Regions from separate parts of the Homo sapiens genome. Here region 2 is linked to region 1. A link means that fine-mapping ties the variant in region 1 to the expression of a gene that starts in the linked region. Tissue or cell type: lung. Region 1 holds a variant in brackets; the other region holds the start of a gene. All regions are shown on one strand. Distances are from middle to middle.

Evidence for each region. PIP is the estimated chance that this variant, and not a neighbour inherited with it, causes the effect.
Region 2: FYCO1 starts here. The variant in region 1 is fine-mapped to the expression of FYCO1 in lung (TOPMed, PIP above 0.99). The same link has a PIP of 0.9 or more in sun-exposed skin, thyroid, tibial nerve and whole blood.

The regions. Positions count from the first base shown.
Region 1 is chr3:45,916,214-45,924,314 of GRCh38, forward strand. It overlaps FYCO1 (FYVE and coiled-coil domain autophagy adaptor 1), which reads right to left. Exons shown (of 18, transcript NM_024513.4): 17 at 7,443-7,552; 18 at 1,690-5,627. The coding sequence ends at 5,552. Among named protein-coding and RNA genes, the nearest start is that of CXCR6, 23 kb to the right of the region's middle. RefSeq lists an enhancer at 1-255. The variant T/C (reference allele first, on the strand shown) is at 5,047.
Region 2 is chr3:45,991,581-45,999,685 of GRCh38, forward strand. It overlaps FYCO1 (FYVE and coiled-coil domain autophagy adaptor 1), which reads right to left and starts at 4,244. Exons shown (of 18, transcript NM_024513.4): 1 at 4,142-4,244. It overlaps LOC105377063 (a long non-coding RNA gene), which reads left to right and starts at 4,323. Exons shown (of 3, transcript XR_940799.3): 1 at 4,323-4,509. RefSeq lists enhancers at 1,497-1,997, 4,043-4,542, 4,043-4,092, 4,113-4,272.

The DNA.
Region 1 (8,101 bases):
GGGCCCGGATTACCTGGAATCAAGCGTGGGGCTTGGAAACCCTCCAGCAAAGACTTGGGTCATCTTGAGTTATTCTGCAGTTTAGCAGGGTGGGGTGAGGTGGAATGGAGGATTTTGACCTGGAGGTCCCCAGATCCCAGCCCCAGATGCACAGCACACACATATATGTATGTCTCAACTGTTTCTTGTTCTAGCCCCCAGCCCATGAGGCCCCCAAGCCTCAGGAAGGACTGTTGTATTAACAAAGAAACTCTCTGGCTCTGTCATTTGGGGCAGGTGGAGTAACTATCTGCCATTACTGCAATCTGGTTACTAGATAGATACTTGATCTGAGGGTACCTTTTTATTTTTTTGAGACAGGGCCTCACTCTGTCACTCGTGGAGTGGCATGATCTTGGCTCACTGCAGCCTCTACTGAGTTGGGACTATAGACATGCACTACCACACCTGGCTAATTAAAGAAAAAAAAATGTAGAGACGGGGTCTCACTGTGTTGCCCAGGTGGTCTTGAACCCCTGGGCTCAAGCAATCCTCCTGCCTTGGACTCCCAAAGTGTTGGGATTACAGGCGTGAGCCACTGCGCCCAGCCCAAGGGCATCTTTGACATAAGAGGGGGTGCAGGGGGTGGGACTGAGTGACCAGCTATCATTGCCTGTATCTCCTCCTGCAGGCCCACCCTTTCCCTCCTCTGCCACCGGAGTGTTTCAGGAGCCTCTATTCCTGGCAGAGTTAGTCGCCAGTGGGAATGCTGATGACTTTTTGGCGACCCAGGGCACTGGGACTGACCCGAGAGGTCAATTCAGTATTTTTTGAGTCCCTTCCTGCCTGGCATGTTGCTCGATGCTGCGGTGGGGAGAGAAGGGAGGAGGGAGATGAAGATAAAGATGAAGGATTCACTGTCTTTTATCCTTGGGAGAGAACCAGAGTTACAGAAAATGTGACTTCTTCCATGGAGTAACAGATTAAAGAAGAGGCCAAACGAAAGTCTGGCAGCAGGAGAGGGCTGGCGGAGGAAGGGCGGTGAAGGGGTGGTGTGGGGAGGTGTTCTTTTGAGGTGCAGAGCACTGCAGGGACAGAGCCCTGGTCATCCCTGGAGTGGGGGTGTGAGGTGAGTGTGGGTGGGCTGCCCAGCCTGAGCTCAGTCCAACATCCAGCAGTGACCAGGGCATGCCCCTCTGGGCCTCTGTCCAGGCTCTTTGCTGACCCAGCCAGAGAAAGGTATGCGGGAATGGGAGGGCTGACTTCTTCCTCTGCCAGCCATCTCAGCCTGGCAGTCTTGCCCAGCTTTGTACCTCATATTGACCAATCATGGTTTTAGGCCATCCATGATGCTTCTCCCCAGCCCCATTGTTCCGGTAAACTCAGAAGTCTGCTCTTTGCTCAACATGCTCTGTGGGTGCCCTGGGAGATCTGGACATTTGAGCTGAGGCTAGAAGCCCATAGGGCACAACAGCATGGATTGAAAGACAGGCTGTCTCAGGCAGGTCTAAACACCACCCTCACAGCAGGCCAGGAAGCAGCCAGGTGCCAGGCCACCTGGAAACTTCCCAGAACATCTGCTGGCTCAAGTCCTCCTGAAAAGCCACCATAAAAGATGCTCTATTTCCCAGCAGCACAGCTCAACCCCAACTCAGCTCTGTATAACTTCGTGGTGCACTTTATGTCCCAAAAAAATGAGAGACAAATGTCTAAATGTCATAGTGTTTACTTTATTTAAATCCTGAGGTTAAAAATAAAGTATTTCCACATGGCATGGCAGACACTATAAAATAATATGCTTAGGGATACAAAAGTTTTCCACCCCCATTGAGCAGGTGGGGTGCTGGTATTTGATGTGCTTCTAGATAATTCTTTGGCAGATAAGAATGAATTGGGGTCCCAGACCCACCATCCCGTAAGGCCACATGAATTGAGGATTAATCAATTAAAGTGCAATTCCAAATGTTGAGCCTTCCAAATGAGGCTTGGGTATTGCTCTGCAGCCACCAGAGGCAGAGTGTCTCTGCATAACATACATCAAGCAGCCTTTTTCTTTTTTTAAATCAGAGATGCCTCCCCAAATTTCAAGATGTACTTTATTATTTTAAAAGTGCTTAAGAGGAAAGAGAGAATTATTAATTCAGTCTCTCCTGTTTCCTTGGAAGAAACATAATGAAATGAGAAGAACTTACTAAAGTTCCCCTACAAAGTGCTTTCTTGGTAAGTGTTTTGTAAACAAGAATGGCCGTCTCGATGGTCTTTGTGTACATGACCATCCTTGGTTCTAAGCATCACGAATGGCTTCTCTCTGCTTTAATTCCCAACACCTCTGAGCCAAGGACAGTTTCTTGGCCTAAAGAATTCTCATATGTAGAATCATGCGCACTTTTAAAACTGAAACTCCTTTAAAATTTCATCAGTGGACATCCAACCATATCATAAAACACAGGCTCTGTGATTTCATCCCCAACTGGCGATTTCCTTTCATTTGGGCCTGAAATAGTTTCACCACCTTCGATGATAATTTTAAAATTTCCAAAACACCATTTATTCTTGAGTTATATGACGTGGCTTTTCATTTCTATTCTCCAAACCCTGTGGAGTTTTTCAGTTCCCGTGTCTTTGCCTGCTCTTGGTCCAGTCCACCTGGAATCCAGTGTGTTGAGGTCAAGCACTCTGTAGAGTCCACTTGGACCTGGAGGACAACACTTTGTGCCAAACGTGCCTCCTTGTTTGTGGGTAAGTGAATCTGACAGAGGTTGGCATGTTCTTGAAGGTGGTGAGTGGCTTCAGTGGCATGATGAAGAAGGCATCTGGTATCGATATGAAGACGTAACTGTTATTCAGAGAGATGAGCCATCAAGGGGCTGCCCCTTTTAAAAAAAAAAAAAAAGAGTGATCTGGGATCCCAAGGACGCTTCCTTCTGGCTGATTTCTAGTGTAATTCAGTCTAGCCAGGGCTACCACCTGCAGCAGTGGTTCTTCAATTGCTATTTGCATTTCTTTAAAGTACCCCAGTCCTTAATTCTCAGTAAAGTTGGGAATCTGATTAATATCAGAATAAAGCTATTTATAAAAGCCACTCTTAAATATGCCAAGATGTTTTGTAGCTGCAGAGAGCACAGCAAACTTGAGCTTAAACAGCAACCTAACAAAATACAAATGTCCACCCAGCACAAAAAATAAATTCGCTAATGAAACCACATAGTTAGGAAGTCACCTCAGGGCACGGGGCAGTCCTCCGAATGCAGCAAAGGCTTTTTTTGAACAATAGCAGTCAGTGCTCAAGGTGTTGCACGCAAAACATCCAGCTCTCCTGGAGGAGTGGTTCTGGGTAAGCTGCAACCGGTCCTCTGCTGTGGAGTGACATGTTCAGGAAGGACCTCAGATGGAATGTCCCAGGCCCCAAACCCATTAGCTACTCAGTGAATGGTGGTTCTTGTTGCATATGGTGCCAGTGACACTTCAGAAGGTCATCAGCTTGGCCAGAGTCTCCGCAGTATCCTTGGAAAGCCAAGCACTCAAAGATTCTAGATTGCTCTGGGTTCTCTTTTGTTAGTTTCTTTCTAACAGTGAACAAGCTGACTTCTGATTATCATTTGCAAGTGGCTGGATGGATTCAAAGTTAGCATGATTTGTTCTGAATCATCTCAGGCCACGTGGCATGCCTGTGAGGACAAACATCAGGCCAAGAAGAGTCGCTGGGGGCCTGGCCACCTCTATTCCAGTACTAAGCATGGTCAGAGCCTTGGCCAGGAGAAGATGATTGAGCACCTGATGGCTTTCTGCCAGAAGAGGCTGCTCCAAGGAAGCCGAATGCAAGAGGCCCAGCTTTTCTCTGGGCAACCTCTTTGAAAGGTTCTATTCCCTGTTCCCCATGCCTTGCTTAAAAACTGACTGGAAGTGCTCAACTCTCCTGTTTAAAGGTCTGAGTCCATTCCAGAAATGACCTCTTACTTGTGGCCCCACAAAAGTCCTCTTTGTTGGTGGTGAGGTTGTGGCTGCTGGTGTGTGGTGGGTTTGGGGTCTCTGTTGGACTTGGCCTGGAGTCCCTGACCCATTCTCAAGCCCTCAAAACCAGCCAGACCAGGGTTATGACAAAGAGAAACTTTGGGAAATGTGTGACTGGACTTAGGTCACAAGGGTAGCTGGAGGAACTGCCGGGCCCAGCTCTCAGATTCTCGGATAGCCTGTCTGGTGCTCTCTCCCTCACCCCTGGCCAAACTGGGACCTTTTGTCAGATGCTCTGTTCACCCATGGAAGAACCTGGGGCCTGACTGCAGGCAGCTGGTTCCATGAACAAGGGACGAAGAGCTGTCCAAGGTGAGCTATCTGTTGTTGGGGAAGAAAAGGACCACAGAGAACAGGGAAGATTAAATAATTCTTGTCTGGGAATAGGGAACAGGATCTCTCTGCCTCAAGGGGGGATGTCTCCTGGAGGTCTGGTGTGGGCTGAGCAGTGGGAAGTGGGCAAATGGGCTGTTGGGGAACCTGTCAGGAGGGGAGTGGGGCCCAGGGATCCATCATGCCTCTGTTTACTCTGTTACTTTGGTTCTTAAGTTATCAAAGACTTTTGTTAAGAAGGCCCCAATGTTTGAAAGTGGTTCTAATCCTGGCTATGATCATTAGTAAACATGTCTGCAGGTGGGGCAGAAGCTCTTATTTATATAAACAAAAGTGGGCCATCAGCTGAGGAGTAGCTCTAAAGCCAATGCACAATCCTGCTCTGTGGTCACAACATCCACACTGGCTGGCATTTGGGCATTAGATGTAGTGTACACACAGCCATTGCAGGCCCCAAGTACAGTGGGTTTTGCTCTTGGATTATCTTTACTTCTGATTCTTAGGGCAATGCTTTGAGCTGTGGAGAGGTCTGGCTGAGTGAAGGGCTTTATTTGAGGACAGAATCACCCAGACAAAAGGGCCAGAAAGAGAGTGCAGCTTAGAGGCCCCTCCAACACTGCTGAGTTCTGGAGCAGCCTCCAGCTTACTGGGGCAGTGAGGGACAAGAGCATGACTGGAGGAGCTGGTCAGGATCTCCGGGGGGTCCCCTGGCACCGACTCGCA[T/C]GATGGCTGTGTACCTCCTTTTCCCAGGAGTACCTGAGGGCGTCACAGCCTGAGGATTCACAGGGCATGGCCAGTGCACCCAGCTCAGTCTCCAACATGCAGGGCCCTGGTGGGGCAGGGCAGAAAATCTCTCCACAGGCAGAAGTTGGAATCACCCCTGCCCGTGAAACTCTCCACAAGAGGCCTGTAGCCAACTGTGCTCCCAGGAGAGGCTGATGGTCTCCTGGGTGTTTAAACCTTTGGCAGAGCATCCCTTTGGGTGTGACAACAGCTGAGTCTCTACTTAATGGAAACATTGCCTGAGCCCTTCAACGCCTCGGGGGCTAAGAGTGGCCGGTGCAGAGTGCTGAGCACAAAGTCCTCCCCAGACACCGCCTCTGAGGGGCAGCCCAGGGGCTGAGTTGATGATTTTGGAGCAGCTGACTTTTTAAAAAAATGCTTTATGTGACAGGTGAGGAAGAGCAGTGTTTCCTGTGGATGAAGTGAAGTTACTGAGGTGCTGAAGCTACAGGAAATCACTTCCATCGTAGATCACAGGCCGATCAACCGTCAAGTGATAAAATACCTTTTTAGAGACAAACCTGAGGAAACAGAAATGGAAAGGGAGGGTGTTACCTGAGAGCTGAAAGTCCGAGGGGTGGCAGCTGCTGCTGAGGCCTCTGTGGTCACTGCAGTGACCTGGCTGGGTGTGGGTGCTGGAGCCCCATGCCCCATTTCCTGTCTGTCTAGTGGAGTTCTCTCCCTGGGAGGGTCAGAGGGTTTCGGGACATCACTGTGGACTCTCCTGAGGCTTGGGTGCAGAAATGCCCTTTTGATCACAGGCTGTGAATATCACCTCCCTCACCTGGCTGCTCTGAAGCAGCTGGTGGTGGGGACTGCACAGTGTGTGTATGGTGGTGTGAGGAGCAGGCAATGGGAGGAGGCATATGGTGGAGGCCAGCACGGATTTTTTCCTACTCGGCAGCTAACTCAGTTCTGATATCCATAGTTTGGAAATCTCAAGTAGGCCCCTGAGATGACCTCGATGGGCCAAGGCCAGAGTTTGTCACAGCACCATGGCCACCTCTAGGGATAACTGGGAGCCTGCTCGGGCTTGGGACGGTGCTCTGCCCTCATCACATCTCTCCTTGGTCTCTCCATCAATCCACAGTGTGGTTGCCACTGCAGAGTAGGAAATGGAGACTCAACTAAGGGCCGCTGGGGGAAGAGCAGAGCTTGGGCCTGGTGGTCCCCAACCCATTCTCCTAACCACTGCCCTATCCTGTTCAAGAGGGGCTGGGGCTCATGTCCACTCTTGGGGTAGAGGGTGGCTCCAAAGAGAGCTCTCTGGCCATGATAGGTCTATGCCATGAGGTCCTGCTAACTCCAGGGGTGCTTTCATTTCCACTTGGGAGTGTACGGAGGGGCAGGAGGGGGTGAGGTGGGAAGTTCATCTTCCAACCCCTCCTCTGGTGGGCACTCTTGGCCACAAGCCCTGGCAGTTCAAGGCCTGGAGGTGGTGAGGGGATGACTCAGGTTTTCCCTAGTGTCCTGTCTAGTTATTCTGCTAAGAGCCAAGTACCCATGCTGGGGATGTGACCGGTAGCCCAGGACCTTGCTCAGAGAGGATGTGGCCAGAAACAGATCAGGCAGTTCTCTCTAAAGAGCTGGTTCCAGTTAAGGGGTCTGTGCTGAAGCAGAAGACATAAACAGGGGCAGGTGCCCAGCCCCTCTCCAAATGATTGGCAGATACTCAGTCAATGCTGGTCCTGTCTCCACTCCCCTCCTGCTATCCCTCTGGCCTCATCTCCCTCCATTCTCATTCTCTTGTCCAGCTTCTCCCCCATCTCCCAACCTATACACTCCTGAACCTTAGCTGGTTCTCAGAGTGCTTCCCAGAGATGGCACCTGTCGCTCCCGCCACATGGCCAGGGGCTTTGTGGTGCAGTTTTGGGCTTGCTTATCTCAAGCTCTGCCCTTCCTTCTTTTATTTCTCCCTTTCTCGTTCATTCATTCATTCAGTCTTTCCATTGTATTTCCTAAGCCCCTTCTTTGGGCAGGGCAGTGGCAGAGCAGTGGGAATCAATATCAGAGAGAGGGAAAGGGCACCTTGGTTATGAAGAGTTCAGACTGGCCAGACCGCCTGGTTCAGATCCAGCTCCACCACTGGCTCTGTGACTTAGGAGTGTCACTCCTCTACCCCTCAGCAGTGACATGGTAAGACTCTGCAAGCATGAGCCTGTGTGTCACAAAATCTCTAAAGAACACTGGAACACCACAGGAGAGGGGTCAACAATCAAAGAACAATTAATAATAAGTTACTGACAAATAATTGGTTTTGAGTGTCCACCTCTGCTCTTTAGAAGAGGTGAAAGAGAGGCCTGGAGACGTGGAGCTGGTGCCTGAGGTGGCCCTACCTTGAGAAGGTATTGTCGAAGATGAGCATGTAGATGCCGGGTGTGCGAACCTTGAGCTGGCCCTGGATGTTCTCCTTGTGGGAGTTGCATCGGGTCGTGGGAATGAGGACCTGGGAGGGAAAGCAGGTAGGCAAAAACATCACAGAGGCTGAGAGGGCCCTCGGCATCCTCAGGGAAGACCCTTTATTTTGGGGTAGGAGGCTGAGTGTGTTGCCTGAGGTCACAGATGAGCAGAGCCGGAGCTGTGACCAGCCCCAGTAGTGGCACAGTGCCATCCCACAACCTGAGGCTGTTGATGACTCGTGGCTATGAGTTTCTTCCAGAATCATGACTTGGTCAGCACCCTTAAGGAGTGATCCCCTAGCCTTGAACATAGAAGATGCTAGAACACTCCATGGGCTAAAGGAGAAGCCCTTTTCTGCCTTCAGGATATGAAGCTTAGTCTAGGTGGGATCCATCTGTCCAGCTGTCTCCTGTTGGTCCTGGTGCTGCCCTTGGGTCTCGCAGGACAGGCTGAGACCTCCTTCCAGATAACAATCTTCCAGGCACAAAGCTGCTGGGCCCACTCTCCTCCAGGCTCGACATCTCTGGCTCCACCTAGGCCTGTCTCCTGGCTGTGCTTTGGCTGGTCCATGTGCCCCAGGACCCTTTCATCTTCC
Region 2 (8,105 bases), 75 kb after region 1:
TGCTCCCTACACCTTCCTTTGGCCAGCTGCTCCAGTCTCGCTGGGTTTGGTGTGGACAGGAGGAAGTGTGAACCACAGTTCGGTTCCCGAGGAAGCCTTACCCACAGCCTCCTTCACCCCATCCTGGAAAATGAAAAGCACCGCCACCCTCACAAACAACCCTGCTAACCCAAACCTCCTGTCAGGGGGTGAATTGTGCACACCACCCCACCGCATTTCGATGTTGAAGCCCTAACCCTCATACCTCAGAATGTGACTGCATTTGAAGACAGGGCCTTTAAAGAGGTAATGAAGATTAAATGAGGCCATGAGAGTGGGCCCAAATCCAATTGGAACTGGTGAGTTTATAAGGGGAATTCTGGACACACACAAGAGATACCAGGGATGCGGAGCACAGAGGAAAAGCCGTGTGAGGCCACAGCAAGAAGGCGGCTGTCTGAGAGCCAAGGAGAGAGGCCTCAGGAGAAGCCAAACCTGCCAATGGCTTGATCTGGGACTTACAGCCTCCAGAACTGTAAGAAAGTACATTTCTGCTGCTTAAGCCACTCAGTTTGTGGTATTTTGTTATGGCAGCCCTAGCACAAATACACCTCCCAAGGCCCTTGTCTCTCCATTCCTGAAAGTGTGCATGTGACACCATCAACAAGGCAACCTGGGGAGGGGAGGTGCTGGTGGGCCTGGGTTCTGTTGCACTTCTTGGGGAGGAGCATGACAACAGCAGTGCCAGCGTAGGTGCAGAGAGGCAGAAGGTGGGGCCATGCTGCAGATGGGAGGGGCAAGCAGGACCCAGGATGGCTCTGAAGCTGGAGTTGGAGCAATGAGCAAGATATTTTCTTCTCTCTTACCAGTGGTAGCCAAGTTTTGTCAAATGGGACCCTATTTAGATTTTGGAATCAGACTAGTTACGTGAACTTTCCATTATGTATTATGCAACAAAGATCATGCCATGGTTGGGTGAGACCCAAGGTATATTTAGCTTACTCAACTATTTTTAGGCACTCTATCTGTCCTGGGGAAGTCATTTGACCTCTTCCTACCTTTCTTTTTTCAGATGCAATGTTGAGAGGTAAACTTCCTTCATGTGAATTAATTAAGAATTGCAACCCTTGAAGGAGGTGGGAAAGGGGGGGTAACAGACATTCTCAGTGGCTGAGGCTTCTAAGTGTCCCCTCCCTGCTCCTGACCAAGTCTACAGATACCCTGGAAAAAGCATCTGGGGCTGCAGAGTCAACTTCAGGAAATTCCTTCCAGCTCCATTTTAAACCACTGTTTCTGATTCAGCTATCCAGCCCTATCCTGGACTTCACATAGGGATTCTTCTCTTGGCCTTGCCCCCTGCATGCTAATGGTTTTCTTGGAATGCTTTTTTTGGTCCAAGCTTTTCTTTTGTATGCTAAGGACTTCCCCTAACTCGGGTTCCTGGGACTGGCCTAGGGTATAGTACTCTAGATTCCTGAGGTAGTTGGCCAGATCAGCCCTTGGGTCCCAGCCACAGGGCCACAATACTATACCCAAACCACAGATTCTCCTTAAGTCTTTCATCAGAACCACACTGATGTACACATCCTCCAAATGGCATCCGGCCTAATGAGAAACAGGCCCTTGGTGCCTTTCAAATGCCACAGAGATCCAAGTGAACAGGAAGGACCACTGGAAGTTACTAAAATCAACAGGTTGACTGGCTCCCATGTGAGAAAAGGGATAAAACTGCTCTTGCCTAACTGAGCACAGCTTCTGCCATCATCCTCTTCTCAAAGCCATGGGGCCCATTTGCTCCAAGGCAATGGCTCTTATTATGGGGGTAGTACAGACATTTCAGCCATTTTTGTGATGTATCAACGAACAGCAAGAAGGTAAACAGCATTTCCATAGGTAGAACCACAGAAACATTCCAATTCCCACCCTATTGATTTATTTAATTGCTCAGATAGAGGCTCTTATACCAATAAAGACTTCTTATTTTCTTGAAACTGGCATTGAGCTCACAAACAAAATACTGTTTATCTTTTGACTAAGACAAGAACATAGCAGTCATGACGTGAGCAGATGTTGCCCTGACCATAATGGACTCATCTGTGCTCACAAGTTGCCTCTGTAATCACAGGCACCAGTTAATGACCCTTACCTGCTGCCTAGGGCTGCTTGCAGTGAACGTGGTTCCTAAATCTAGGTGCCTACCAGTGATTTCCACCATAAGACCACAGCTAGACAACACACTTCCTCTGCCTCATGTTTAAAGACATTCTAGTCTTGAGTCACCAAAGCTGTGTCTTTGGAATCTTCAGTAAACAAAAGTTACCTATCAGCTAAACATCTCCCCTAAAGGGAAGCAGGGTGGGTGGGGGTGAGGGGGCTGCCATTTCTTGCGTACCTACTTTGTATTCTTGAGTCAGCAGTCCATAGCCTTGGTGACCAATATGGGTCAAAGCTACCAGCTGCTCTGATCTTGCTCTGTTATGGGTGATTCCTCTCATCACAAACATCTATGGGGGCCATCCCCCTCAAAAAGGACCAGGTTAAAAACTTGGCTCCTGAAATTATACTGGTGCTCCAAACCCAGCCCCAAGGGGCAAAGGTCATCGGAACAACAGCTAAAGGATCACTGCCTGAGACTGTTACCAATCTCTAAAGTAACTGCAAAAAAAAAAAAAAATCAAAGTAAAATATTAAGAATTGAGTATACGGATATTCACCATACAATCCTTTCAGTGATTCTGTATGTTTATTTTTCTAATAAAATATTAAAAACAATTTAAAAAGTAAATGAAGTGCTACACAAAGATAGTCACTTTGAACATAAACAGATAAACTCTATTTCCTAAAGCAAGAGCCTTTAGGAGAGATCCTATTAATCAAAGGAGGCTGAGATCCATCACTGTGACAATTAGCTCTTATTTTCAGGGTGATAATAACCACGGTGCACAACTAGTATGGGGCATTCAATGCTTTCAGAACAGTGGTTGTCACAGAAGGGAGGGTCAAGTGGAGCTCACTCAACAGGGGTCCACTTCAGAAGGTGGGAACTACTGAAAGCAGAAAACCTTGGCATGATAGCTCCAGCTCCCCACCCCTCCCCCACACCAGCCCCCAACACCCTCCAGCCGCATTAGGCAGATGGCAGGGGAATTAAGCTTGCAGCCTGAGACCACAAGGCCTGCACGGGCAGGAGAACCAGTGAGCAGATTAAGCCCTGGATCCTCTGCCCCGCAAAAGCCCCTGACCCATTTCTCTGTCGGGAAAGGAAACTGCTGTGGTAAGACAAGCAGAGGGGCTGAGAGGCTCTGGCCAACACAGGCAGTTTCAACAAGTGTTCTATTTTTTTTTCTGGAGAGGACACCCAATGGGAACAGTGAAGAGTGACAGGGACATCAGAGAATACATGTGCTTTAACAGGGGGCCACGCGGTTAACGTGTCAACCACATGTGCTTTTCTTACAAAAAATAAAATCCCGCCATCCTCCCCCCTCCCCGCCCCACCCCCGCCAGGTTTCAACAGCACGGACTCCAGTCCAGTGCAGTGCCGCCACACCAGAGACAACAGGTGTTTCGGGAAAAGACCCCTGGGGGCTAGCTCGAGACCCTGCGCATGGGCACAAGGGGCAGTGGATAGTGAATAGGTCTTGGCCAAAGGATGGGCCAGGAAGAAAGAAGCTTCTTCCCCTCCTGGGAAGAGGGCAGAGATCCGAGCACCAGCGGAGTCTTGCAAAGTGAAGGTCTGGGCTGTCCCGGCCCAACTGGGCCAGAGACTAAACTTCCTAAAGACCACGCAGGCAGGAACTCCGGGGCCTGCCCCATCCTGCGCTAAGACATTCAGGCTTGTTCTGAGACGCCGCATGGTGGGCTCCTTTCCTTTGCGGGCCCTCCGCCCTCCGGGGTCTTGGAACTGGTGTTTGGGGTCTGTCTTTCTAACCGACCAACAGAGGCAGGCTGGGTGCCTGGGCCGGCTTCCACCTGCCCGAGGTGCTTCCCGGCCCGCTGGGCAAGGACGGGGGCGCTCGGGCAGGGTCTGAGGGAGACCTGGGATGGGCGGGGACTGTAAGGGCAACAGGTGACAAGCCGCGCCCCGAGCGAAGCTCTCGCCTCAGGGATCGTGAGCGACCCAGGTGCCCCCAGAGTCCAGCCGGTCTTCCGCGGCACTTACGCGCTCGTGGGTCCACCGCCGGGCAGAACCGAAACTTTCTGGGGCCAAGCGGAAGAGGACGGGAACGCGGTGCTGACGGCCATGACGCGCACACCAAGAGGGTGGCGGGGGCGGACTACAACTCCCGGCGTGCTCCCCGGGGCTGAGGCCTGCAACTCCCATCGGACTCCCGGGGCTCCGACTACAACTCCCGGCGACTCCGCAGGGCGGGGTTTAAGTGCTCCCACCGCCCAGTCCCCGGACCGACTGTCCCACCCGCGACCCATGCTGGCCCCAGGTTAACGCCTGCAACCCCGGAGGGCCACAAATCAAAGGTCTGGCATCTTGACAACAACGCTGTTCTTGTGTGGCTAAGGAGCACTCCAAAGGTAGCTAGTTCGAGTTGAATCGTGCACGTGCTGTAAGTGTGAAATACACCTAGGTACCAAAGAGTCCGAAGAATGTTAACTAGCTCATTAATTTTTAGTGATTGCATGTTAAAATGATAATATTTTGATATATTGGGAAATAGAAAAACATGTATTGGTGGGCCTAATTTCCCATCTTTTAATCCCCCTTATTTCTTAATATCAGGGTCTTACTTAAAATTAGTGCTCAAAAACTACGTGTTTATGAACTACCACCCCTAACTTTGGCCCCATCCTCAGCCCAACTTCTATTTATAAGATGGGTGTTGCAAAGCACTGTGGAACTGAATACGATAGAACAAAATGCATTCAATCAGTGTCCGCTATGGGCACAGTAGAAAAGAGGAACACTACACGGGGACTTTGGCTTCTAACTGACTGCATTCCTTAGCTGTGGCTGGCTATCCTTTACTCTCTGCCCTAGTTCTCATCATTTAAGCCAGAAACAGCTCTCTCCCTTGTAGGACCTAGCTCGTGGTATCCAGTCAGGAACCGTGGTGGCCCAACATTCTAAACTGAGGAAGCAGGGTGTTGTCTGGGTACAATAATACAGAAAGAAAATCAATTTCTTAGTCGATTTTAGGCTATGACATCTCATTAGCCATCTAATTTTATAAATTAGATGTAGCTAAAACAGTGAGTTGGATGGATGGAGTAGTCAGTTTGGGGGTGGGGTTGGGAGGAGGTACATGAATAGAAGTGATTTCCACTCTTGTTAACAGAAAGGAGAACAGAAAGAAAACGGGGGGAGTGAGAAGATGACAAAGAGAAAAGTAATCAATGTAGTGGTCTAAGAGAAATCATTGCTCCAACCACTGTCTGAACAGCTTCATGCAATATTAAGGATGAGAGAGATTTTAATGTTGGTCATCTGGTCCAATATCCTTGTTTGAAACTGTGTGGGGAAAAAAAAACCTCCCTCAAACCGTATTTTTCCTCTACTCTTACACAACAGCAATCATCAACACAGGAGAATAATTTGGTGACCAGATGTGTGTGGGGTTTTCCCCACACACTGAGCAGTGGACCGCACCTGGGTGTCCTCCAATTCAATTCCGACACTATCTACCTGGAGTATCAGATCCCACAAGTGGAGGGCTCAGTCCCCAAGACTGCCTCCTCACCTTTAAACACCAGTTGTAAGTCTAGGCCTCCAGAATTTTGGAATGACTGGCTTCAAGTTGAGTTCCCACGACACCCTCTTTGGGTTCAGCTAATTTGCTAAAGTGGTTCATAGAACTCAGAGAAACACATTTACTGGTCTATTATAAAGGATACTGCAATGGATGCAGATAAAGAGACACGTAGGATGAGGTGTGGAGGAAGGGGCGTGGGGCTTCCATGCCTTCCCTGGATGCACCACTCTTCAGTAACCTCCACGTGTTCAGCTATCCCGAAGCTCCCCGAATCCAGTCCTCTTGGGCTTTTATGGAAGCTTCGTGATGTCAGCATTGCTTCCCCCAGGGTATAGGGGAGGACCCTCTCTTGGGAGGGTCTTAAGACCTATAATCAGAAAGGCGGGGGAAGCGGCTGGGCACGGTGGCTCACGCCTGTAATCCCAGCTCACGCCTTGGGAGGCCGAGGTGGGCGGATCACCTGAGGTCGGGAGTTTGAGACCAGCCTGACCAACATGGAGAAACCCCATCTCTATTAAAAATACAAAATTAGCCGGGCGTGGTGGCACATGCCTATAATCCCAGCTTCTAGGGAGGCTGAGGCAGGAGAATCGCTTGAACCCGGGAGGCGGAGGTTGCGGTGAGCCAAGATCGAGCCATTGCACTCCAGCCTGGGCAACAAGAGCAAAACTCCATCTTAAAGAAAAAAAAAAAGAAAGAAAGGCGGGGGAAGATTAGAGTCCTGCCTTAAAGCAGGTGAAAGGAGGGCAGAAGGCCAGAGAGATTCGGTTTCCTGAAGCCTAACATACCTAACATAACAAAAGACTGTAACAAGGGCTATGGGAGTTATGAGCCAGGAACCATGGAAGAAAACCAAGATAGATAGATAGATAGATAGATAGATAGATAGATAGATAGATAGATAGACAGACAGATAGACAGACATCATAATACCACAGAAACTTAAACCCAAAAGGAGTTTGAAAAGAAAAGGAAAACAAACCTAATATTTATTGAGGACCTATATGCCAGTCCCTAGCCCCCCAGCAAAAAAACAAAAAACAACAACAAAAACCCATTCAGCATTATATTTAAAACTTGCAGCCACTTGGTGACATAATTAGTATTCATTATCATACTTTGAAGATGAGGAGATGAAGCTCAGAGAGGTTAAATGACTGTCCTGGTCCACCCACCTAATAAGTGGTGGAGAGTGGTGGAGGCTGGGGTAGAGCTGGGGGCTCCTGAGGGGTCTTCTGTCACCCAGCACACTGTCAGATACAGGGAAGGTTAACAAAATCACTACTGTTCAGGTAGTTTAACTTGGATTTCCTTTATAGATACAGCAGAGTATTTCAAACTATAATCTTTCAAACAAACATACAAACAAACGCAGCATATTCTTGTGTTCTGATGTGAATACACATTAAGAGATCAGATTCAAAATCACCAAATCCCCACACCCTCTCCTTACAGCCTTAACAAGTGGCAGAAGAGGAGACTATTCCTCACGGGAAGCTGACCGTGCCCACGGCCCTGAGGAGGGATGAGGCTCTTGGAATGATTGTTAAGGGCTTTTTATGTGCCAGGTGCCATGTTATGTGTATTCCACACCTGGTTTAGTTTTATCCTTATATCAGTCTCATGATACATAATTATCCACATTAAGCAGATAAGCAAACAGCCTTAGAGAAGTTAGCTAATTTGCCTAAAGCCCAAACCTTATAGTGGCAGAGACAAATTTTGAGCTCAGGTCTGTCCAATTAGAGTTTAAGCCTTTAACCACTGTGATGGCAGCTCCTTCCATGGGGCAGCCATGTGCTCTGCCAAGGACCCTACCATTGTGGCCCCTGCTGGTCAGGCCAGAAGTGGATGCCAGCCATGCCAATGGCATGGGGTGGCAGCTCAAAAGAGTCAGCCTCCTCTTGATAGTCACTGGTCAATTAATCTCTCTGCTGGAAAATTCGAGTGTAAGACCCACGGAAGGAATCAGAAGTTGACTGCAGAATCAACAGCTCTAAGCTGGTTGAGCTATCTTCCCCTACAGAACACAGCTTTTCAGTAATGATTCATAGACAATGCAGAAGGATGTGGACCTCAGGGCTCCGGAATTTGGTTTGAATTCTGACATGTATATTTTCCAGAATTTTTTCTCCATAACTCTACTATTGACTTTTCTCCTCAACCCTTCATCAACTGAAAACTTTTGAAATTTTAAAATAAGCTCTTGATAATACAGATTTAGACTTTTTCCATTTTAAGTGATAATAATAGAAAATAGCATTTCCCACAGAATAAGGGGACTATACTTCCTGGTTCAGCCAAGAGAGCCCTGTTATCCCAGCATGAATATTCACAGCACCTCTGTTCACTCCCAGTGGTGTCCCATTTTCTCAATACATTATAGTTACTGTTCGGGAAAAACTCTCAAACCGGTTTTCC